7 linked regions of the Homo sapiens genome follow. The protein of the gene in region 1 purifies or fractionates together with the protein of each later gene. This does not show direct contact. Each region holds a gene or a part of one and is shown on either strand. Other genes may lie near its edges.

Evidence for each region.
Region 2: the proteins of U2SURP (region 1) and SUGP1 purify together in Homo sapiens (affinity purification with mass spectrometry; one large-scale study listed by BioGRID and IntAct). This does not show direct contact.
Region 3: the proteins of U2SURP (region 1) and WASHC4 fractionate together in Homo sapiens (co-fractionation; one large-scale study listed by BioGRID). This does not show direct contact.
Region 4: the proteins of U2SURP (region 1) and METTL2B purify together in Homo sapiens (pull-down; one large-scale study listed by IntAct). This does not show direct contact.
Region 5: the proteins of U2SURP (region 1) and ODF2 purify together in Homo sapiens (co-immunoprecipitation; one large-scale study listed by IntAct). This does not show direct contact.
Region 6: the proteins of U2SURP (region 1) and KIFBP fractionate together in Homo sapiens (co-fractionation; one large-scale study listed by BioGRID). This does not show direct contact.
Region 7: the proteins of U2SURP (region 1) and PFKP fractionate together in Homo sapiens (co-fractionation; one large-scale study listed by BioGRID). This does not show direct contact.

Annotation. Positions count from the first base shown.
Region 1 is NC_000003.12:143,032,570-143,036,069, forward strand, and holds part of U2SURP (U2 snRNP-associated SURP motif-containing protein), read left to right. Parts: intron 1-214; coding exon 215-377; intron 378-701; coding exon 702-781; intron 782-2,318; coding exon 2,319-2,406; intron 2,407-3,412; coding exon 3,413-3,500.
Region 2 is NC_000019.10:19,279,022-19,282,509, reverse strand, and holds part of SUGP1 (SURP and G-patch domain-containing protein 1), read left to right. Parts: intron 1-2,218; coding exon 2,219-2,325; intron 2,326-3,119; coding exon 3,120-3,297; intron 3,298-3,488.
Region 3 is NC_000012.12:105,114,231-105,117,730, forward strand, and holds part of WASHC4 (WASH complex subunit 4), read left to right. Parts: coding exon 1-39; intron 40-131; coding exon 132-197; intron 198-953; coding exon 954-999; intron 1,000-1,430; coding exon 1,431-1,498; intron 1,499-3,500. UniProt on the Homo sapiens protein: Acts as a component of the WASH core complex that functions as a nucleation-promoting factor (NPF) at the surface of endosomes, where it recruits and activates the Arp2/3 complex to induce actin polymerization, playing a key role in the fission of tubules that serve as transport intermediates during endosome sorting.
Region 4 is NC_000007.14:128,490,248-128,493,747, reverse strand, and holds part of METTL2B (tRNA N(3)-cytidine methyltransferase METTL2B), read right to left. Parts: intron 1-3,500. UniProt on the Homo sapiens protein: S-adenosyl-L-methionine-dependent methyltransferase that mediates N(3)-methylcytidine modification of residue 32 of the tRNA anticodon loop of tRNA(Thr)(UGU) and tRNA(Arg)(CCU).
Region 5 is NC_000009.12:128,469,506-128,473,005, forward strand, and holds part of ODF2 (outer dense fiber protein 2), read left to right. Parts: intron 1-1,802; coding exon 1,803-1,963; intron 1,964-3,407; coding exon 3,408-3,500. UniProt on the Homo sapiens protein: Seems to be a major component of sperm tail outer dense fibers (ODF).
Region 6 is NC_000010.11:68,995,303-68,998,802, forward strand, and holds part of KIFBP (KIF-binding protein), read left to right. Parts: intron 1-3,500. UniProt on the Homo sapiens protein: Activator of KIF1B plus-end-directed microtubule motor activity. Required for organization of axonal microtubules, and axonal outgrowth and maintenance during peripheral and central nervous system development.
Region 7 is NC_000010.11:3,098,548-3,102,047, reverse strand, and holds part of PFKP (ATP-dependent 6-phosphofructokinase, platelet type), read right to left. Parts: intron 2,774-3,500; coding exon 2,696-2,773; intron 1,128-2,695; coding exon of another isoform or gene 1,048-1,127; intron 684-1,047; coding exon 494-683; intron 1-493. UniProt on the Homo sapiens protein: Catalyzes the phosphorylation of D-fructose 6-phosphate to fructose 1,6-bisphosphate by ATP, the first committing step of glycolysis.

The sequences.
Region 1 (3,500 bases):
AATTGGAATCTTATTCTACAGAGTATTCTTATATAAATTCTTCAAAAAATTGTAACAATTTTGGGGGACACAACACAAATCAGACTGAATGTATTACAGTCTTCAGAATTATTTTATGTGAGTAGGTTTTAAAGAAATTAGTTTGTGAGCAAAAGCTACAATGGCATTTGAAATTGTATCTAAATATTTATAAGTTAAAACAATTTATGTTCAGACAGAGGGATAAATTGGAAGAAATCTTGCGGGGATTAACTCCAAGGAAAAATGATATTGGAGATGCAATGGTTTTCTGTCTTAATAATGCTGAAGCTGCTGAAGAAATAGTGGATTGCATTACTGAGTCGTTGTCCATCTTAAAGACACCCCTTCCTAAAAAGGTATGGGAATGAATTTTAAGAAAAGGGGAGATAGTTGACGTCTTTTGGGATTAGAATTGGTTTCCTTTTTGCACAAAGCACTTGACTGATGAGATTTTTCCCATGCAGTCTTATGTTATTTCTGCTTGGAAATTTAGGTTCATTAACATACAAGTTAACAAACAAGTTGAAATGTAAATGGGTTAACAAATTTCATCTCTGCCAGAGTCATAGTTGTGGTGATACTGAGCTTCATATAACTCTTCTAATTAGTAGCCATAATTAAATTATAGCTAAACATTAGCCTTATATTAACCTATTTTGTGTTATCTTTTGATATTATAGATTGCCAGATTATATTTGGTTTCTGATGTTTTGTACAACTCTTCAGCCAAAGTTGCTAATGCTTCATATTATAGAAAATTGTAAGTATAATGATATAACTGATATTCCTGAAATAAAGTATTTAAGGGTAAGGAGTTCAGAAAAGAGGATTGTTTTGTTAACATCCTGCAAGAATAAGAAGTACAGTCAGCCCTCCATGTCTGTGGGTTCCTTATCCATGAATTCAACCAACCATGAATTGAAAATATTTGAGAAGAAAAATTGTATCTGTACCGAACCTGTACAGACTTTTTTCCTTGTCATTTTCTAAACAATATAGTATGAAAACTCTACATAGCATTTACATTGTATTAGGTATTGTAAGTAACCTAGAGATGATTTAACAGATGGGAGGATGAGGATAGGTTACAGGTGAATATTATGCCATTTTCAATCAGGAACTTGAGCATCTGTGGATTTTGGTGTCCATGGGAGGTCTTGGAACCAGTCCCCCCATGGATACTGAGGGAAGACTAATTTGAATTTCTTAATGGTTTGTAGAATTTTTTAAAAAATTGGCTTACACTTAAGCTAAATTACCAATTTTTTGGAAAGATTTTATATCATATCACTTTCTTAGCTATTGACAGTATAACAAATAGGTGTTAAAGAGAACTTTATTGCATATCTAGCTATTCATATAATAAATAGAAACAGTGTATATACTGGCAAACATAAGAGACCAAAGACATACTATTAACTATAGAATCTGTGTTCTCTTCTGATCCTCAGCATATTGATTTTAGTTCATTGTAAATGTTTCCTAAGGCAAAAGGAAGTTACGTTGCTGTATTATAATTAATGTATAATTCAGCTGGGCACAGTGGCTCACGCCTGTAATCTCAGCACTTTGGGAGGCCAAGAAGGGCTGATTACCTGAGGTCAGAAGTTCGAGACCACCCTGGCCAACGTGGTGAAACCCCATCTCTAGTAAAAATACAAAGATTAGCTGGGCGTGGTGGTGTGCCTCTGTAATCCCAGCTACTCGGGAAGCTGAGGCAGGAGAATCGCTTGAACCCGGGAGGCGGAGGTTGCAGTGAGCCGAGATGGCACCATTGTCCTCTAGCTTGGGTGACGAGCAAAACTCCATCTCAAAAAAAAAAAAGTATAACTTTTCCTCTGTTCCCCAGAGCTCTCTTTCTGTGTTTATTTTATGAATTAGGCAAAGGGAAGCTTTTCCCTAGGATGTTGCTCTGAAAAGAAATTTAGAGAGCTGGATCCTACTCTTAGGTCTGCTATTAGTTTTTTTGCCTTGGACGAGTCACTTTTCTAAGTTTTCTGTTTTATAAAATAAAGAAATTGGACGAGATGGTTCAGCATATCCTAGATATAACGTTTCTTGCTCGTAAAGGGAACTAGTAGGGACTGTTGGGGAGTTTGTAGGAGAAAAATTCAGAGTAATAAGAGTTCAAGCAATTCAGTTACGGTTTTAGAGTTTAAACACCTAGTTTTTGATTTTTAATAATTTCTTGATTTGTAAGTATTTTAAGTTCAGGAGGGGTTTTCATTGGCTGGCATGCTAAAAGGGAAAGGAATTTTAAACATTTTATTTTAAAGAATGTGTTATTTGAATTTCAGTTTTGAAACAAAGTTATGTCAGATATTTTCAGACCTCAATGCCACCTATCGTACAATTCAAGGCCATTTACAATCTGAAAACTTTAAGGTACGTTTATTGTTTTACTATTTTTGCCCTAGTGTTTTAAATGGGTGGGGGGAGGGCATTGAAGGGCTAGAAAAGTGCATAAGACAAGTATGAGACATAAATTTAAAACTTAGATGTTACAGAAGTTACTGTTTTAAAATTCTGTCGTTTTTGTTTTTATCAAATCAAAAATTTAAAAGATACTATTTTGTCAGGTTTAATTTTAGTTTTAAATATTGTTTAAAAATTATAAATGTTAGTCTTTTTTCATAAAACATACAGAAGAATCACTTGTTTTGTAATGGTATATACTATTTGGCTGGATTAAAGACATACATTTTAATCATGTTTAGAAAGTCTATTCTGTTACCAATTTTTTTATAACCTCTTAAGCTCTAGACCAGTGTTAAGAAAAGCCAAGTGTAGTACTTCACTTATAATTGAATAAGTAAATATGCTTTCATGGGAAGAAGACTTTTTTAAGAAAAATTTTTAGTTTCGGAAGATGCCCAGTGACGCCACCATTTAGGGCATTCAGACAACTCCCATTTTAAAAGTTTTTGACCTTAAATTTTGACCATAAGTTAGAATTTAAAGACAAGTTTCAGGAAGATACAGAGTAAAGTATTAGCCAGAATTAGGAAGTACTTTATTGGACCATAAGGGATTCAGGTCAAAACTTGGCTACTTTGGTTTCCAGTTTTAGTAAGTTTCTATGTAAGTGTTTCTGGAATGTGGCTCATGGGTAGTACTAATGGTATGGGAGCTGACCTTAGGTGGTAAAGAGCAAATAGTTACTGTTTATTTTTCATTATATTTATTTTTAGGGGTTTTTTTCCTTTTAATTAGAAGGTGACATTGATTTTTTTAAAAAATATGGTAATGATATATAGTTATTTTCTTTAAAGTTTAAAAAAACATCAGTTTAAAGGCAAATTTAGCAAATCTTGATGATCATTCTCATGAACTGAAATTTGAGACATATAGCCCAAAATAAAAGTTTGTTGTCTGTTTCCTGTTTCTTTAGCAACGGGTAATGACTTGCTTCAGAGCATGGGAAGATTGGGCAATTTATCCAGAACCATTTTTGATCAAACTACAAAATATTTTCTTAG
Region 2 (3,488 bases), on another chromosome or scaffold:
CCATGAAGTGATTCCTGACTGTATTTGTGTCTTTGGGTCTGAATTGAGTCTCTTTTTTTTTTTTTTTAACATAAATAGAGATGGGGTCTTACTATGTTGCCTAGGCTAGTCTCAAACTCCTGGGCTCAAGCTATCCTCCCACCTCAGTCTCCCAAAGTGCTGGGATTACAGGCATGAGCCACCACTCCCGGCCAGTACTTGGATTCTTTCTTGTCACAGAAAGTTCAGGAGGCTGGGTGTGGTGGCTCACGCCTGTAATCCCAGCACTTTGGGAGGCCAAGGTGGGCAGATCGCCTGAGGTCAGGAGTTCAAGACCAGCCTGACTAATATGGTGAAACTCCGTCTCTACTAAAAATACAAAAATTAGCTGGATGTGGTGCCACGTGCCTGTAGTCCCAGCTACTTGGGAGGCTGAGGCAGGAGAATTGCTTGATCCTGGGAGGCGGAGGTTGCAGTGAGCCAAGATCGCACCACTGCACTCCAGCCTGAGCGACAGAGCAAGACTCCATCTCGGGAAAAATGAAAGAAAGTTCAAGAGACAGACAACGATAAGCACAATAATTACCACAGTTTTACACAATCACCTTTTCACCTCTCCCTTCTTAGCAGCAATTTCGGGGAGGGCCAGCCTATGGCCTGGTCTCTCATTTTCTTACCAAACCTACAAGGGTTGGGGGGTGGTCTCTTGTCATTGCATTCTGCAGATGATAATCAGTGACTGACACCCACTATCTCATGTCATATGGTGCCCCACTATGCAGCTATGCAGCCTGCACTGTGGAGCAGAAACATCACCCCCTCACTCCACCTTCACTGGCGCTCAACACACAGGTGCATGGAGGAGTCCGACGTGCCCTGTTGTGTGGCGCCATCACCTGTGTTTGCAAGATGAGGACAGGACCCCAAAAGGGAAGGCGACAGCCTTCCCAGGTCGGGTGGCCAGCCTCTTGGACCTGCTCGTCCAATTCAGGGATGATTGCTTTCTCGGTGCCTCCCTGGCCCCAAGGGCCTCAGAGATTCTAGGTCAAGGAGAAAAGCTACTGAATGAAGATTCTTATGCTTACCAGGGCTGTAGCCAGCAACTGCAGCCAGGGTGGAGGGTACCTAGGATTGGTTTGTCACTCAAGTGCCGAACCCTAGTGCTTAGATCCGGGTGCTTCAATGCGCACACACCCCAGCTCTGAGACACCCAGCAGGTGAAGAAGTCGCCCTGTGGCTTAGTTGGACAGAACAGGCTCCAAAGTCTGAGGCCCAGGTTCAAGTCCCACTGATCCATGTCCTCAGGGAGCATGGCAGCCCTCACCCGCCCGCTCATGTGGTGGAGTGGGCCTGGGGGAAAGGGACTGTGGGCATGCTCTAAGGCAATCAACCAGATGCTCAGACTTCGGCTCCTGCGTCTCCCCAACAGGGCTCCCCCACATCCCTCAGTGCCCTGTAAACCAAGGAAGGACTAAGAGTGCAAATGTGGGCCATTCTTAGCGGCAAAGCCCGAGTGTTGATGAGCTGGAAGGACCCAAATCTTTTCCCTTCCCAGAGGGCCCGCTGCACCCCTTTGCTCACCTTCTCCCCCGGGAAGCACCGCACCGCCCGAGGGGTGGTGGTTTCTGCCACCCGGATGGGGCTGTTGCAGCATCTTTCTATGTGTCAGTGTTACTGGAGCCTGCCAAGTTCCACAGCTGATGCCAAATTAAATGTCAGCTGCTCTGAGGATGGTTGGCTGCCTCCCCTGAAGGAGCTAAGGGAGTCGCACAGCTGAGTCTTACGCCAGACTCTGAATCTGTGCGCGCTTACACCTGGTGTCTGTTAGCAACGGAGCTGCCTTCTGAGAGCCCGTTTGTGCGTGCGCCCATGCATGCTGCCCACATGCCGTCTCAGCTCTCTTGTCTCTGGCTCTGCAAATTCCTGCCCTGTCACTCGTTAGCTGTGTGACCCTGAGTGAGTCCCGGAACCTCTGATTCTTGGTGTCCACATCTGCAATGTGGTGGTGCGTAGAGCCTGGCTGGAGAGGTCACAAGGACGTAAGATGCGGGGGTGCACGTGGCAGCACACAGCGGGACCCCGAGGCCGTCACGTACCACGTGGCACTGACAGTAATGATATGAGGTCCCCGTGTGCCTGGAGTGTCATGAAGGTGTGAGACTCACAGCACACCCCAGCGCAGGAGCGAGATCGGGGTGCACCTGTCAGGCTCTGACTACCCTGTGTCTTTGGTTTCCAGTTCAGGACCTCAAGGGGCTCGGCTATGAGAAGGGGAAGCCTGTGGGTCTAGTGGGCGTCACAGAGCTTTCAGACGCCCAGAAGAAGCAGCTGAAGGAGCAGCAGGAGGTAAGACTGCGGGGACAAGGGGACGGGGACATGGTCGGCGCCCATAGAGTGTTGTCCTCTACCCCCGGGTGCAGCGGTCACAGGGGTTCATGTGCTTCGCCAAGCTCCTGTGTTCAGGTGGAACCCATGGCCAGCGGGGAGGCTTCCAGGCAGGCAGGTCCCCCTGCCCCAGTAGGTGGCATGCCACCCCCCACTGCACCTGAGTGGCCTCTCAGCCTGCCTGGGAGACCACTGGCCCTTGGGGCGGCCCCGGTGGTCTGTGATCCTGGCCTGAGCTTTGTGGCTGCTTCTCGCCGCGCTCCAGGGCTGGTTCCCATGGGAGAGTCTACGTTGATGTTCTTTGTCCGCAGTCCTCTGTCGTGTCTAGTGCAGGACCATCCTGGTCAGCACAGGGCACCCTGAGGGACTTGAGGCCTCCCAGTTGTAGTTGGGCAGTGTCGGTGTTGGCTCCCCTGAGGAGCTGCAGGCGCTTGCCTGTCAGTCCCTGGGGTCAGCTCGCTGTGACCCCTCCTCCAGGCCCGCAGCCCCGTCACATCACCCTTGACCCTCCCAGGGGTCAGGACCCTGAGTCACCCTCATTCAGTGGCCAAGAGGTCCTCCGTGCTCCACACTGGGATTTAGAGAACCCAGGGCAGTACTCAGTACTTGCTAGAGTCCTTGCTCCAGTCCTGCCCAGGGGTCCAGATGAGCCACGTTCCGGCGGGGGATGCCCAGCACTGGAGGCGGGGAGCAGGAGCGGGGCTCCGGCAGGCCACAGCACCGTGCCCTGGCTCACTGGCGAGTGTGCCCTGCAGATGCAGCAGATGTACGACATGATCATGCAGCACAAGCGGGCCATGCAGGACATGCAGCTGCTGTGGGAGAAGGCAGTCCAACAGCACCAGCACGGCTATGACAGTGATGAGGAGGTGGACAGCGAGCTGGGCACCTGGGAGCACCAGCTGCGGCGCATGGAGATGGATAAGACCAGGGGTATGTGGGGCAGCGGGGTGGGCCGGGCTGGGCTGGGCATGGCCCCCCTCACCTGCCCTGGAAGGTTACCTGGATGCGCCACACGTGGTCTTGAGCTGCCATCCTGGTTTAGCCCCCAGCCTGCTTCCTGTGGCTGTGAGGCCTGGAGTGAGAGGCTCAGTCTCTCTGGGGCCTAGTTTTCTCCGTGGTGA
Region 3 (3,500 bases), on another chromosome or scaffold:
CAGTCCTCTCTTTTGGAACTCATAAAGACTGAAAACAAGGTACAGAATCCTAAATCTAAAAAATTGTTTTAAAAATGTTTTAGTTATCTGTAACAATTTACTTTTTATTTTGTTTTTACTCATGAAACTAGGTCTTAAACAAAGTCATCACTGTTTATGCTGCACTTTGTTGTGAAATCAAGAAATTAAAATATGAGGTAATTATTTGAATTCTTGTCTTAAAACTTTAAAAACATCATTTAGAAGCAAGTATGTGTTTATATATGTACAGTGTGCAATAAATATTTATTGAATGTTGAATGAATTATTTATTTAACGTAATACTAATACGGACTACCATTCATTGAGTACTTAGTATGTACAAAACACCAGGCTAACACTGTAATCCTTATAGTAACCCCAGGAGGTAGGTGAGACATTGATGAGGAAACTGAAGCTTAAAGAGAGTGTCACTTGCATAACATCTTACTGGTAGTCAACAGTTTGAATCTAGGTTTACAAACCTCCAGAGTTTGTGTTACCTGCCATATATACTGGCTATCTAGAGAAAACTGATTTTTTTTTCTTAAAATGCATTTAGTTTTGTGTTTCCTTACCCAAGAACCATTAAAAGTCTGGTAGAAGTTGACAAACTTCGTATTTTCTTCTCCTGCTTTTTGATACCATGTGGTTGCTCTTTATTTCCCATAAACTAATGGGAGGATGTGGGACAGTGAGGGTGGTCAGATAAGATGAAGTAAAGGCTAAAGGAATCAAGATACAGCTTTGAGTATCAGTAATATTTTTGTTACTCTAAAGATGAATTGCTTTATAAACAGATTTTGAATTTAAATGAATTTGTATGCAAATGATGTAGCCCTCTGTTTATTACTAAGTATACAGATCTAAGAGAGCATAGGAATTTGGAAACAAAACAACCTTTAAAATTATTTTAATTTTTTTCTTAAAAACAGGCTGAAACTAAATTTTACAATGGTCTCTTGTTTTATGGAGAAGGAGGTAAGTTTAAAATTCCAAATTGTGATGCCTTTTTGATATTGAAATGAACAAAAAGTTAACAGACAATTTTAGGACTACTATGATTATATAATAGTGTGAGAAAAATAAGTATTCATATTTTTTGTTGGTATGTTTGGTAAACAGGTAAAAAAGCTGAGGAAGCAGCAGCAAATTTGTGATATCTTTGTACTTTACGAAGTACTGTAGGTAGATGAGAATTTTCCTTGAATTCATTAAATAGTGAAGCAAATACTTCTAATTATTTGATTAATGATTGTCTGATTTTTCTCTTTGGTGTAAAAATTCTGTTTTCAATACTATGCAGAGTAAAAGATGTCCTAATGAAAAAAAAAAACTTTTCCCCCTTTTTTGGTATTGATTGAGTTTAAATTTAAAAAATGAAATATGCTTATTCATGTTGCCTTTTACAGCTACAGATGCCAGCATGGTGGAAGGTGATTGCCAAATTCAAATGGGGAGATTTATTTCATTCTTACAGGTAACTGATTTTTACTTTCTACTGAGCTTTTACTTCAAAAAGTTTGAGTAAATTACACAACACGTAAAAAGTTCTGAAACCTTCAAATACTAAAGATGTGTACTCTGAGGATAAGACACTTAATTAGCATTGGATTATAGTTTAGGAGATCATAACTCCTAAAAGATTTCCAAGTATTTTTAGAGGAAAAAGCTATCAAAATAAGTTTCTTTGTGTATATTTCTTTATGGACAACTTGTCACCATGCCTTTTAAAATAATTTAAACTTTGTACCCACTGGAAAAGATAAATTGTATCAGGAAAAGTTGTTAACGGATAGGAGAGAATTAAGCTATTACATGAGCAATGATGAAGTTGTTTAAAGCGGTAGCCCTCCATGCTTCTAACAGCTTGTTTCAGTTTAGATAGCTTCTCATCACTGCCAGTTTTAATGATTGTAGGTCCTTTGGTTTACTCTTATCAAAAGAATAAAATGGCTTCTATTTCCTCCTCTGTGATAAAAATAGTGCATGTACGATGTGAAAAAGCAAAAATTGAAGCTAAGGAAAAAATACCCATAGTCCCACCTCCTTTCTGTTGTTGAGTACAAGATTTGATATATTTCATCAAATTAGGCATGCTAACATACTGTTCAAATCTTTTATATCTTTACTACTTTTTTTGGTCTAATTGATCTAATTGAGAGCATTTTGTTCATATTGTGATATGTGTTATTCAGGGTCCTGTCTAGAAAACTCCATACAAGGTATTTCAAAAGATGTAGTTTGGAGGATACAAAGTAGCAGATATGTAAGATGAGTAAGTCTAGAGATCTGATGTACAACATGAAGATTACAGGTAATAAAATACCGTATATGGCATTCATGCTGAGTAGATTTTAGCTGCTTTTGCTACAAAAAAATGGGTTAGCTATGTGAGATGATGGATTTGCACTTGACTATAGTAACCTTTTTATTATCGGTATGTATCCCATAACATGTTGTATACCTTAAATATACACAATAAAATGTATTTAAATAAGAAGAGAGGGGATTCAATATAGAGAATTGGTTACCCAGGAGTTGGAGGACAAAGAAAATACTGAGGTGTAGTCCAAAGGAAACAGATACCTCCTTTACATCCAGAGAACAAAAAGGATAAAGATTGGGATTGCCAGGATCTGGGAGCTTGGAGAAGAAGCCCCATGAAACTGATGCCTATGCTGAGGTGGCACTGCCTATCTGCTGCTGGCTTCTTTTCCAGCAAGGTGTCTAAAAAATGTAGTTGGTAAGGTCCCAGTAAATGTGGAAACTTTGCATTTTTCATTTTGAGGGTATTTTATTCAGTGTGTACAAGTTTAGAATTGTTAATCATTCCTGGTAAATTGAATCTTTTATCATCATTTGTGACCTTCCTTAGCTATGATCATGATTATGTGTATATGATTATGTATATGTATTTTACATGCATAGCAATTTACTGTACTGATGCTAATCAAGTCTGTTTTGTCTGACAGTATAATAATAATGCTGCCCTGGCTCCGTTTTAGTTAACATTTTCTTGATTTATCTTTTTCCATTCTGGCAGCCTTTCAGTGTCATGTTTTAGTTGGGTTTATTTAAAACCACATATATCTAAATTTTGCTTTTTTAATGTAGTCTGACAATACCTGTTTTTTAATCGCTTAATTTATTCTGTTTCTAGGTCTATCTTATATAGTCTGTATGTATATCTGGGCTTGTTTCTGCCTTTTTACTTTGTTCTTTCTGTTTGTCCTACATTTTCTCTGCTTTTTTTAAACTTCTAGAAGTTTAATAGGACATGTAAAACTATAACTATTTAAAAATAAAATGCGTTATTTATTTTCATTTTAAAAAATACTTTACATCATATTTAGATCTCACAGCTGCATAAAAATTCCGTTTTTAAACATTCAACAAATATGTTTTGTAAGCCTAGTATATGCTAGAAACTGTTATTGGTGCTGGTGATATAGCAATGCACAACACCAACAGAAATTCCT
Region 4 (3,500 bases), on another chromosome or scaffold:
AAGATTATCTTGTTTTAAATTTTAAATGTAACTGTTGCTACTTCACGAAGAGGGATCTATTTCTTTTTTCTTTTTTTTCTTGAGGCAAAATCTCCCCATGTTGCCCAGGCTGGCCTCAAACTGTTGGGTTCACGCGATAGGATCACTTGCCTCACCCTCCAGAGTAGGGGATATATTTCTAATCATTATATAGATTGGTGAAAAAGTAATTGTGGTTTTTGCTATTGAAAGTAATGGCAAGGATGTGGTGGCTCATGCCTGTAATCCCAGCACTTTGGGAGGCCAAGGCGGGAGGACCACCTGAGATCAGGAGTTCGAGAGCAGCCTGACCAACATGGAGAAACCCCATCTCTACTAAAAATACAAAATTAGCTGGGTGTGGTGGCGCATGCCTATAATCCCAGCTACTCGGGAGGCTGAGGCAGGAGAATCGCTTGAACCCAGGAGGCAGAGGTTGTAGTGAGCCGAGATTGTACCATTGCACTCCAGCCTGGGCAATAAGAGTGAAACTCCGTCTAAAAAAAGAAAAGAAAAAAAAAAAAGTAATGGCAAAAACGACAATTACTTTTGCATCAATCTAATAGCATGTTATTTCAGGGAGGACTCAAAGAGTAAAGATCAGGAATAATTGAAGGGAGACAGTGAGGAATCTAATAGTTGCGTTTAAAATAGAACATTCCTGACTCCCCTACTTTTATTCTTTATTCTTGTGTACTTTCTGTACTTCTCATGCATGAAGTCAGATCTAAGAATTGGAAAACGATCATGAAAATGAGTGACCAACAGGGAAAAAAAAAAACATTCATAAGGAGAGAGACAGCACATACTTTAAATAAGCACGCAGTGGCTCACGCCTGTAATCCTAGCACTTTGGGAGGCCGAGGCGCGCAGATCATGAGGTCAGGAGATGGAGACCATCCTAGCTAACATGGTGAAACCCCGTCTCCACTAAAAATACAAAAAATTAGCCGGGTGTGGTGGCAGGTGCCTGTAGTCCCAGCTACTCGGGAGGCTGAGGCAGGAGAATGGCGTGAACCCGGGAGGCGGAGCTTGCAGTGAGCCGAGATCGCACCACTGCACTCCAGCCTGGGCAACAGAGGGAGACTCCGTCTCAAAAACAAAAACAAACAAACAAACAAACAAACAAACAAACCAAAAGCACGATCTGCTAGGCACAGTGGATCACGCCTAGAATCCCAGCACCCTGGGAGGCTGAGGCAGGAGGATCACTTGAGCCCAGGAGTTTGAGACCAGCTAGGCAACATAGTGAGACTTCATCTCTACAAAAAATAAAAAAATGCCAGGTGCAGGCCTGTAATCCTAGCACTTTGGGAGGTCGAGGTGGGCGGATTACCTGAGGTCAGGAGTTCAAAACCAGCCTGGCCAACATGGTGAAACCCCGTCTCTACTAAAAATACAAAAAATTAGCTGGGTGCAGTGGCACCCGCCTGTAATCCCAGCTACTCTGGAGGCTGAGGCAGGAGAATCGCTTGAACCTGGGAGGCGGAGGTTGCAGCGAGCCGAGATCACGCCACTGCACTCCAGCCTGGGCGACAGAGCTAGACTCCATCTCAAAAAAAAAAAAAAATTAGCCAGGTGTGGTGGCATGTGCCCGTAGTCCCAGTTACACAGGAGGTGGGAGAATCACTTGAGCCCAGGAGATCAAGGCTGCAGTCAGCTTGATTGTACCACTGCACTCCAGCCTGAGTGACTGAGACCCTGTCTCAAAACAAACAACAAAGTACACGATTCAAAACAACTCCCAACTAGAAAATATTACACAAACCATAGAATTCTTCAGGAAAATCTATTTCTGTAGATGTAGAAAATTTACTTTGTTATCAAAAACTGAAGTAAAGATAGGCTTCAATATTCATTTGGTCTTTAACTGCATGAATAATTCTAAAAGCATGGCACTACCAATTCCTAATCTGCCCTAACAGCATTATACATAATTGTGACAGACCCTTTTTTTTTTTTTTTTTTGAGACAGAGTCTTGTTCTGTTGCCCAGGCTGGAGTGGTGCGATCTCAGCTCACTGCAACCTCTGCTTTCCCAGGTTCAAGCAATTCTCCTGCCTCAGCCTCCCCAGTAGCTGGGATTACAGGTGCATGCCACCACGTCCTGCTAGTTTTTGTATTTTTTTTTTTTTTGAGATAGAGTTTCGCTCTTGTAGCCCAGGCTGGAGTGCAATGGCGTGATCTTGGCTCACTACAACCTCTGCCTCCCAGGTTCAAGCGATTCTCCTGCCTCAGCCTCCCGAGTAGCTGGGACTACAGGCACCTACCACCATACCTGGCTAATTTTTGTATTTAGTAGAGATGGAGTTTCACCATATTGGCCAGGCTGGTCTGGAACTCTTGACCTCAGATGATCTGCCCGTCTTAGCCTCCCAAAGTGCTGGGATTACAGGCATGAACCACTGCACCCGGCCTAGTTTTTGTGTTTTTTAAAGTAGAGACAGGGTTTCACCATGTTGGCCAGGCTGGTCTTGAACTCCTGACCTCAAGTGATCTGCCCACCTCAGCCTCCCAAAGTGCTGGCCACCACGCCTGGCCAATTGTAACAGACACATTTTTTTTTTTTTTTTTTTGAGATGGAGTCTTGCTCTGTCACCCAGGCTGGAGTGCAGTGGCACGATCTCGGCTCACTGCAACCTCTGCCTCCTGGGTTCAAGCGATTCTTCAGCCTCCCAAGTAGCTGGGACTACAGGTGCGTGCCACCATACCCAGCTAAATTTCATATTTTTAGTAGAGACGGGGTTTCACCATATTGGTCAGGCTGGTATCGAACTCCTGACCTCATGATCCGCTGGCCGTGGCCTCCCAAAGTGCTGGGATGACAGGTGTGAGCCACTGCACCCAGCCATAACAGATACATTTTAAGGCATCTACCCTCAATGTCCATCTTCTCCAAATATGTGAGTTTGTTTCTCATTGGCCAAAGCTGATTCAAACAGGGCTGCTGTATTTATCAGCTAGGTTGTGTTAACTAGACTTTCCAGGGACTTCAGAACTGGGACACAATCATTTTAGTGAGGCACCATGAACCCCTGAACAGGGTGAGCTTGTAAGGGACTGGAAGAAGCAAGCACGTTGGGGCCACGTGCAAAACTAGGAAATACTGACTAGAGAAAACTGGTATGCAAAGAGGGAAAAAACAAATGGGCCCTGGACAATGAGAGGTAAGATACCAGGAACTTGGGGCTGTATTTTGTGCCCTTAGGTTCTATGACATTCTACTTTATTGCTTTGAGTTTGTCTAGATGTTTCTGTTACTTGTAACTCAAAGAACCCCAATGGAATCATCTCATCAGGTTCGCCTGAGCCCAAAATTCAAGGCTACAGTGGGCTATGATTGTGTCACTCTACTTCAGCCTGGACAACACAGTGAGACCCTGTCTCAAAAAAAAAAAAAAAAAAGTGAAGCCTGAAGATGTAACTGAATTGCTGCAATCTTGTTGCTTCTTCTTTTTTAGTCTTATTCTTTCTTTCTTTCTT
Region 5 (3,500 bases), on another chromosome or scaffold:
TAGCTGGGGCAGCATGGGATCCCATCCCACCAACAAGGGCCCTCTCTATTGAGCATGTAGCTGTCCTGGTGCTCCACATGGGTGGTCCAATTTGAATTTTTACAACAGCATGTGAAGCCAGTGGTGTTACTGTCCTCATTACAGAGATGAAATACCTAGGAAACTAGGGCCTATGCCTTCCGCTTTATATAAGGTTTAACAAAAACAGGCCGGGCATGGTGGCTCACGCCTGTAATCCCAGCACTTTGGGAGGCGGATCCCCTGAGGTCAGGAGTTCGAGACCAGCCTGACCAACACGGTGAAACCCTGTCTCTACTAAAAAACAAAAATTAGCCATGCGTGGTGGCGTGCACCTGTAGTCTCAGCTGCTCAGGAGGCTGAGGTGGTAGAATTGCTTGAACCCAGGAGCCAGAGGTTGCAGTGAGCTGAGATTGTGCCATTGCACTGTAGCCTGGGCGACAGAGAGAGTCTCTGTCTCAAAAAAAAAAAAAAAAAAAAAAAAAAAAAAAAAAAATATATATATATATATATATATATATATAAATAAAAAAATTAACAAAAACAAAGCCCCAAAGAGGCCAAGGAAGTTTGTCCTCAGTTGCCGTGCTCTCTCTTGGGGTGGGATGTGACAATGGAATTGGAAATAGAACCTGGAAGTCCAAGGTCCCCAACTAGGAAATTGGCAGAGTTGTCATTAAAATCCAGGCCTTAGACTTGGATTGCTATGTCAGCCTATGTCTTCACTGCTAACACGACCTGTGTCTTTAATCCTCCACCCTGTACTCGAGGTCCAGGGAACCTCCTGGAGAACCTAGGGCTGGCTGCCTAGAATAGGCCCTTCTTGGCCAGGCGTGGTGGCTCATGCCTATAATCCTAGCACTTTGGGAGACTGAGGAGGGCAGATCACTTGAGGTCAGGAGTTCAAGACCAGCCTGGCCAACATGGTGAAACCCCATCTCTACTAAAAATACAAAAATTTGCCAGGCACACGCCTGTAATCCCGGCTACTTGGGAGGCTGAGGCAGAAGAATCACTTGAACCCAGGAGGCAGAGGTTGCAGTGAGCTGAGATCGTACCGCTGCACTCCAGCCTGGATGACAGAGTGAGACCCTGTTTCAAAAGAAAAAAAAAAAAAGCCCTTCTTCCCCTATAACTCAAAGTGCAAGAGCCTTTTTGTGACATCTCTCCTCCTATGGTGTGCCAGCCAAACCACGGTTTGCAACCTGGCTTCGTTCCCAACCCACAAGTCACTGGGGCTCTCTGTACTGAGTTTCCTCATCTACAAAAAGAAAATCAGCATCTCCCAGGAGAGTCAGTCTTCATGGCAGTTAACTGAGATTGCACCCATAAGGCCCTGGCATGCAGCCTGTGTAGTTCTCAATTGGAAGGCTCCTTATTTTTTTGTTTTTGTTTTTTTTTTTTTGAGATGGAGTCTCACTCTTGTCCGCCCAGGCTGGAGTGCAGTGGGCACGATCTCGGCTCACTGCAACCTCTGGCTCCTGGGTTCAGGCGACTCTCTTGCTTCAGCTTCCAGAGTAGCTGGGATCACAGGCATGTGCCACCACATCTGGCTAATTTTTGTATTTTCAGTAGAGATGGGGTTTCACCATGTTGGTCAGGCTGGTCTCGAACTCCTGACCAAAAGTGACCTACCCACCTTGGCCTCCCAAAGTGCTGGGATTACAGGCGTGAGCCACCACGCCCGGCCGGGGCCTTATTTTGGTCCAAAGCATTGAGCCTAGCAATGTGGCATAGAGGAAGGACCTCCCTTCAGTGGCCCCTGCCTGGGTCCCCCTGCTCAGGTCAAGATGCAAAAAGGTGAGCGCCAGATGGCCAAAAGGTTCCTGGAGGAACGGAAGGAAGAGCTGGAGGAGGTGGCCCACGAACTGGCTGAGACTGAGCACGAGAACACGGTGTTGAGGCACAACATCGAGCGCATGAAGGAGGAGAAGGACTTCACCATGTAAGGTGGCTCCTGCTCTGTCCCCGCTGATCTATTCCTCCCTACCAGGCTGCCTTGAGCCCTGGGCAATAATGGAAAGCAACGTAGGAGGTGGGCACAGGCACTGTGCCTGTGCCCTGGAGCCTGTTCAACAGTCACACAATTAATTACAGTTAATTACCTGGTTGTGCTTATGATTTGTACTATGAGGGAAAGGGAGGACCCCGTGGATTGTGGTGTGGGACTGGGTAGCAGGGAACTGTTTCTGGAACAAGTGATATTTAAGGGGTGTCCTGCAGGATGGTTAAGCATTCGGCAGGTGGGTGCTAGGGAAGAAAGCACGCTACTCAGTGGGAACATCTTATGCGAAGGCCCCAAGGTGGGAAAGTGTTTGTAGCTGAGAAATGGAAGGCAGGCCAGAGTGGGTGGGCAGAGGATAAGGGGGCCACATAGGTTGGCAGGGGGCTGGCTCTCAGCAGCCACTTTGAGGCATTTGCATTGAGGGCATTTGGAAGCCATGGAAAGGATTTATTTTATTTAATTAATTTATTTGGCCGGGCGTGGTGGCTCACGCCTGTAATCCCAGCCCTTTGGGAGCCAAGGCGGGCAAATCACAAGGTCAGGAGTTCGAGACCAGCCTGGCCAACATGGTGAAACCCTGTCTCTACTAAAAATACAAAAATTAAGCCGGGCGTCGCGGCGGGCGCCTATAATCCTAGCTACTCTGGAGGCTGAGGCAGGAGAACTGCTTGATCCTGGGAGGCATCTCAAAATTTTTGAGATGGAGTCTCGCTCTGTCATCCAGGCTGGAGTGCAGTGGCGTGATCCTGGCTCACTGCAATGTCCGCCTCCTTGACTAAAGTAATCCTCCTGCCTCAGCCTCCCAAGTAACTGGAATTACAGGTGCCCACTACCATGCCCGGCTAACTTTTGTATTTTTAGTAGAGATGGGGTTTTAGCTGTTGGCCAGGCTGCTCTCGATAACACCTGATCTCAAGTGATCTGCCCACCTCGGCTTCCCAAAGTGCTGGGATTACAGGCTTTAGCCACTGTATCCAGCCTACAGCCATGGAAGTTTTAAAAGCAGGGAGGTGGCCTGACTAGCCTTGGCTGCAGTGTAGAGAAGAGGTAGAAGGGCTCAAAATCGTATCTGAAGATGGTGCGTAGGAGGGCGTGACAGTGGAGGGGGGCAGTGCAGAGATGACAATGGTGGCTGTTTGAGAGAAACAGGGCCACAGGTAGCTAATGTCTCCTGGTGTGGAGGCCCTGGTCTGGTGCCCAGGCAGATGTAACTTCTGGCCCTGGTCCTTTCTGAAGGCCACCCAGGCCAGAAGGGCTGTCCCTGCCCCCTCCCCTACTTTTCCCTGACCAGAGGTGAGCCCCCTAGGGCATTGTGAGGCAAGCCTTGGATCTCTGGGCATGCGGGGGCCTGGGAGGGCTCACAGAGCCGTCTTTCTGGCCCCAGACTTCAGAAGAAACACCTACAACAGGAGAAGGAGTGCCTCATGTCCAAGCTGGTGGAGGCGGAAATGGATGGGGCTGCGGCTGCCAAGCAGGT
Region 6 (3,500 bases), on another chromosome or scaffold:
TGTAGAATTTTATATAAATGAAATCATATTGTATATACTCTTGTTTTGGTATACCTTTTTTCCACTCAACATCGTTATTTCATTCTGTATCTACTGAGCTGATCGTGTCTTTTCATTTTCAGTCTGTTAATAGGGTGGATTACATTGATTTTTGTAAATGTTAAACTAATCTTGCATTCCTGGGATAAACTCCATTTGGTCGTAGCGTATTCTTTTTATATATTGTTGAACTGAATTCACTAAATTTTTGTTTAAAATCTTTGCATCTGTGTTCATGAAGGATTTCAGTCTGTAGTTTTCTTGTTATATCTTTGTTTAATATGAGATGGGAAGTGTACTGTCCTTTTCTCTTTTCTGGAAGTGTTTGTGTAGTGTTGGTGTTAAACTTCATTACATGTTTGGCAGAATTTACCAGTAATACTTTTTTAGCTGTTTTTATTTTATATTTTACTTTTCTCCTTACCTAGTTTGATAGTGGCAAGGATATGATATGTGAAAGATGCAAGACCTTCCATTGTAGCTTTTCTACCCTTAGTAGGATTTATATTGTATTTAAAGAATAATTCACATAAAGGCTGGGCACGGTACCTCATGGCTGTAATCCCAGCACTTTGGGAGGCCAAGGCGGGTGGATCACTTGAGGTCAGGAGTTTGAGATCAGCCTGGCCAACATGATGAAACCCCATCTCTACTAAAAATACAAAAATTAGCCAGGTGTGGTGGCAGGTGCCTGTAATCCCAATTGCTCAGGAGGCTGAGGCACAAGAATCGCTAGAACCCGGGAGGCGGAGGTTGCAGTGAGCCAAGATCATGTCACAGCACTCCAGACTGGGCAACAGAGCAAGACTCTATCTCAAAAAAAAAAAATGGTAATAATAATTCAAATAAAATGTCAATAGTGATTATCTCTGTGGAGTCAAGCTTTAAAAAAAAAATCCAAAACACCAAACCTAATTTAATTTTAAAAATAAAGGTGGGCCGGGTGTGGTGGCTGACGCCTGTAATCCCAGCATTTTGGGAGGCTGAGGTGGGTGGATCACCTAAGGTCAGGAGTTCAAGACAAGCCTGGCCAACATGGCAAAACCCCGTCTCTACTAAAAATACAAAAATTAGCTGGGCGTGATGTTGGGCGCTTGCAATCCCAGCTACTCTGGAAGCTGAGGCAGGAGAATAGCTTGAACCTGGGAGGTAGAGGTTGCAGTGAGTTGAGATTGTGCCACTGCACTCCAGCCTGGGCGACAAGAGGGAAACTCTCAAAAAAATAAATAGGCTGGGCATGGTGGCTAACACCTGTAATCCCAGCACTTTGGGAGGCTGAGGTAGGTGGATTGCCTGAGGTCAGCAGTTCGAGACCAGCCTGGCCAACATGGTGAAACCCCGTCTCTATTAAAAATACAAAAATTAGCCGGGCATGGTGGCGCATGTCTGTAATCCCAGTTACCCAGGAGGCTGAGGCAGGAGAATCGCTTGAACCCAGGAGGTGGAGGTTGCAGTGAGCCAAGATCGTGCCACTGCACTCCAGCCTGGGCAACAGAGTGAGAGACTGTCTCAAAAAATAAAATAAAATAAAAAATATTTTGGCCAGGCGCAGTGGCTCATGCCTGTAATCCCAAGACTTTGGGAGGCTGAGACTTGAGTCCAGGAGTTTGAGACCAGCCTGGACAACATAGTGAGACTTTGTCTCTATTTGAAGAAAAATAAAATAAAAGTGATTTGATCATTCCACTGGAACATAGCACTTTGGTCTTCCGGCTTTACAAAATATATCCATTGTATATATATTTTTTTAAGTGACTTGATCAGTCCTCAGTATCCAGGACTATAGGTCATACTGATAATGTTTTGAGATTGGATAGTTCTCTCCTCTATGTTACTTATGAGGTCCTTTCCAGGACCTCATTAAACTACATAAGTAATAGAGGCTTGACATAATAGAGGACCTTATTAAACCTCATAAGTAATAGAGACTTGAAGGGTGATATGGTTTGGCTCTGTGTCCCCACCCAAATCTCATGTTGAATTGTGATCTTCAGTCTTGGAGGAGAAGCCTGGTGGGAGGTGACTGGATCATGGGGGTGGATTTCGTCTTGCTGTTCTCATGAGATCTGGTTGTTTGAAAGTGTATAGCACTTCCTTCTTTGCTCTCTCCCCTTCCTACTCCAGCCATGTAGAATGTTTGGGCTTCCCCTTCACCTTTTGCCGTGATTGTAAGTTTCCCGAGGCCTCCCCAGCCATACCTCCTGTACAGCCTGTGGAACTGTGACCCAATTAAACCTCTTTTCTTTATAAAGTATCTAGTCTCAGGTAGTTCTTTATAGCAATATGAGAATGAACTAATAGAAAGGGCTCTGCCTTCCTAATAACTTACTGATTGTAATTTCCTGATCTTAGACCTACAGGCCACCTTTTCCTTACTCTTTAGTTCAACTTATTTCTCCTTTGATGATAGACAGTGCTTGGGAAACTCCTTTGACCATGACACCAGTAAGCCCCACTGCAGCACACTGCAACTAACCTAGGTAGTCTAGAGACTCACCTAGTACCAGAAACTGGTTAGTCACACTCTATTTTTGGGACAGGGTTGTGTTTGGCCTGCTATATTCAGGGTAGACTGTGCCACAGAAAGCAACAATTCTTGGTATGTGACAAATCTGAAACCATGAAACCATGATTGTAAGTTTCCCGAGGCCTCCCCAGCCATACCTCCTGTACAGCCTGTGGAACTGTGAGCCAATTAAACTTCTTTTCTTTATAAAGTATCTAGTCTCAGGTAGTTCTTTATAGCAATATGAGAATGGACTAATACAAAGGGCTCTGCCTTCCTAATAACTTACTGATTGGTCATGTTACATGTTAGTCAGGCTGGTCTTGAACTCCTGACCCCGTGACCTGCCCGCTTCAGCCTCCCAAAGTGCTGGGATTACAGGCGTGAGCCATTGCACCCAGCCCAAAAGATTTTTAAAACAAAATGTGTGATATAGTAATATATATGCTTCTTTATTAACACATTATATAATGTGTCTAATATCTATGATGATTGTAAAGTAATGATGAGCATAAATGATATTTTGAGATATCTGCAAACTAGCATAATAGAAAGGTTTTTTTTTTTCATTTCTATTGTTCACAAAGTCCCAGGTCCTATAATACTGCTACAATTTATTTCCTGTGTTCATAATGAAAAGAAATGCTGTATTTTAATAGGAGATTGGTGAAAAGAAATTTGTATTTTTTTCCCTGTCCAAATTCATGGACTCTGAATTCTCTTTATGGATGCCTTGGGGATCCTTAGACTTGAGGTTAAGAATTTCTGCATTAAAAACTTCCTTCCCTAGTGGCAAAAGATGGTAGAAGGCCAGCCTCAGAAGTATCCTTGTGCCTGAAGGACTGACTATTCCAAGGGAAGTGAGGTAGACTAACCCCACTACATACATACATACATACATACATATATGTATATATATATATATTTTTTTTTTTTTTTTTTTTTTGAGACAGAG
Region 7 (3,500 bases), on another chromosome or scaffold:
GATCTCCTGACCTCGTGATCCGCCCGCCTCGGCCTCCCAAAGTGCTGGGATTACAGGCGTGAGCCACCGCGCCCGGCCCAACTTCAGTTTTAAAGGACCCCAGCGAGCTGGAGGGACACAGTGTGAGGGCTGAAAGGCGGATGCTAGTGTCCCAGGCTGCTGGGGACCCGGCTCGCCCCACGGCTGAGTGGCCGTTTGATTCCTCATCTGTAAATGGGATGATCTAAAACCTGGCTTAGATGGCTGTCGTGAGGATTCCATAAAGCTATCTGTGTGAAAGGTCGAAGGGTGCCTGGCACATGGTAAGGTTAAATTACTAGCATTCTTACGATCATTGCTGTTGTTTTTTGAGATCCTAAAAAGTCCTGAGATGGTGACCTGTAAGATCTGTGAGAAGAGGTACTTCTGCCACAGTGAAGAGGGAAACCTGTCGGTTCCAAAGCTCTGAAACAGGGCGAAAACCCGCAGGACAGAGGAGCAGGTGTCCACTCACCGTTCCTGGCCAGCTCCTCCAGCAGCCCACTCCACTCCTTCCGGAAGAGGTTGGCCCCGGTGAGGCTCCCGTCCCCGCCGATCACACACAGGTTGGTGATGCCGCGCTGCAGCAGGTTGCAAGCAGCCTTCAGGCGGCCTTCCCGCGTGCGGAAGGCCTGGCACCGCGCACTGCCAATGATCGTCCCGCCCTGGGAAAGACACCAGCTAATTTATCTCCTCTCAGTCTGAGAGAGCGCCAGGTGGATGGCACACACAGGCCGACTATAAACATGGGGTGCTAGAATTTACATTTTTCTCATTTTCATCTTGTGAGTTAGTAACTAGCTATGAAAGACTGTGATTTTCCTGTTTTTAGTCCCAGACCAGCATTCCATGGACAAAGACAGGCGCGTGACACCCAGGAGGAGCCAGGGAGGGTGCAGAGCCAGACACACGGCAGCCAGCAGTTAAATACATGGAGCAGGAACCAGCCTGCGGTGTCACAGCAGCCGCCTCAGCACCGGCCAACGAGCTCAACCAGGTGCACGTGGAACCAAAGACAAGCCCACTGACCACCAGAGCATGCCGGCCAGGACAAGGGAAGCGGTGTGACCAGCAGCCAGGCTTCTCCCTCCAGTCACCCCTTACAGCACCTGCAAGTAAAACCAGCAGGAACCTGGGGCCAGGGGGATTTTTTTTTTTTTTTTTTTTGCACCACATACTCGCTGCCCCTTTTAAAGAGCTATATCTTCAGGATCTTAAATTCTTTCATCCAAACTTCCAGGGGACATAGATCATGATTCGTCACACTTGGTTTTCCAAAAACTAAGAATTGTTGGTGGGATCCACAAATGCAAGATTTCTTTAAATAAAACCATGAATGCACCAAAAAACTCCATCCGTACGGGATCCCTAAGCGCGTGCTGACTTTGTCAAGCAAGGTGCTCATAAGCACAGCAGGGGTTGTCTCTGCACTGGAGGCGAAGCTCTCCCTGCCTTCGGTCTGCAGGCAGCTCCCAGGAGACCCCTGCAGTGACGTGAGTGCGTGTTTCGATACACCAATGGTGCACGCACACAGCTCATTTTCACACACAGAGACTCACTAATATTCCAAATCCCAGAAAAGCTCCTATTTTTACATGAAACCTACCACCATTTAATTTATCAAAACATTATGAAAAGGTTACAAAAACTGAAATTCACTCCACACGATCCTACGTCACTGGCACCAAGTGTGACCGAGACCATTTACAACCCAACCCCCAAGGCAAGTGAGGGTGGGGGCGCAGAGCAGGGCAGGGGTGCTCTCTGGACTCTGCCTGGACAAAAACCTGGGGGGCAGCACGAGAGCCAGCACAATGGGAGCTAGAGCCAGCAACCCAGAAACTCCAACCAAAGAGACGAGGTGGCCGCAACTCAGGAACGAAACCAGGATAACTGGGCTGCAGAGGAGTGGGTGCCATTCCCATTCTCTCACTCACTCTCTTTCACACACACACACACACACACACACACACCACACACCTACACATACAAGGACACCACATATACACACACCCCACACACAGATACACATTCGCTAGCCAGAAATTCACACAGTTAACACATACACACGGGCACACCACACATACACACTCAGACTCACACACCTACATACAGACACACACCAGACTCACACAGTTACACACACACCGAGATTCACACACCACATACACCACACACAGAAACACAGACTCACTGATACACATACGCACTTCAACTCTCCGTTCACATCTTATCTTCCTCCGTCAATCACGACCGCAGAATGGAAACGCTCCCCTGTGTGAATTCAGCCCACACTCTCCTGATGTTTTGCAAACGTTGCTCCACCTAACTTCCGTGGTTGTCAAAATTCCCTCCACCTCTCTTCTGATGTGTCGGAGCTCAGGAGGCGCCCAATGCAGAGAGAGCCTGGACCAGCACGAAGGTGTGGGCCCCATGAGCGTCTTCAGCGGGGAGGCACCGATTTGGATTATTTCTATTAACAAGTACTCAAAGTGACTCACAGATTAACACATGCATTTCTAAAAATCAAACCACAAGTAAAGAGCTGCTCACAAAGTCTGTTCTGTCCACATAATCTCTATTTCGCAACTGATCTGAGCTCAAGTGTTCTGGGAATTTACTAGACATAAAAGAGTCTCTAACTCAGAGAACCCTGTGGACGCAGCCCAGTACCTACCACTTGCAGGATGCTGGAGACACTCTCCCAGTCGGCCTCTGCGATGTTTGAGCCTCCGTCCACCATGCCCTGGTAGCCCTAGGGGAGAAAGGGAGAATCTTTTAAAAATGAGATAAACTTCACTAAATGGGAAGTGATCCTTAAATTATATAAAACGGGAAAAATGACAGTGAATGTCAGTTCCTCAGCATCCACTGGTCAGAAGACAGGGCAGTTCCAGCACTGGATAAAAGCAGTGAATTGTGGGAAAGTCCTCACCTTGAGTCCCTAGTAATGGGAACGTCTGCCTAGACTCAGCCTCACAGTGCAATGAGGAATCAAGCCATTCTCCTATGGCCCAGCGTTTCCCGAGAGGTTGAAAGGGTCGTGTTTCGCTAGAGGTTGAAAGGGGTCACTTTCACCCAACGTGTTTATCATACTTCAGCACAAACTCACAGGCACACAGCACTGTCGAGCACGGGACATACATGGGAGCATTTTGTCAGGGGCTCCGCCTGCCAAGGCACCCTGCGCCACTTGGGATGTATGTTGAATATTATTAAACAGCACAGCTGAATAATAATTGTCTGCCTTACCCTCCATTAATGACACGGTGCTGCATTAGGGAATCAGATATCAATATGTGAGGACACATTGATAGAAGAAGCCCAAGGACAATTACCTTTTTTTTTTTTTTTTTTGAGACGGAGTCTCACTCTGTCACCCAGGCTGGAGTGCAGTGGCGCGATCTCGGCTCACTGCAACCTGCCTCCCGGGTTGAAGTGATTCTCCTGCCTCAGCCTCCTGAGCAGCTGGGATTACAGGT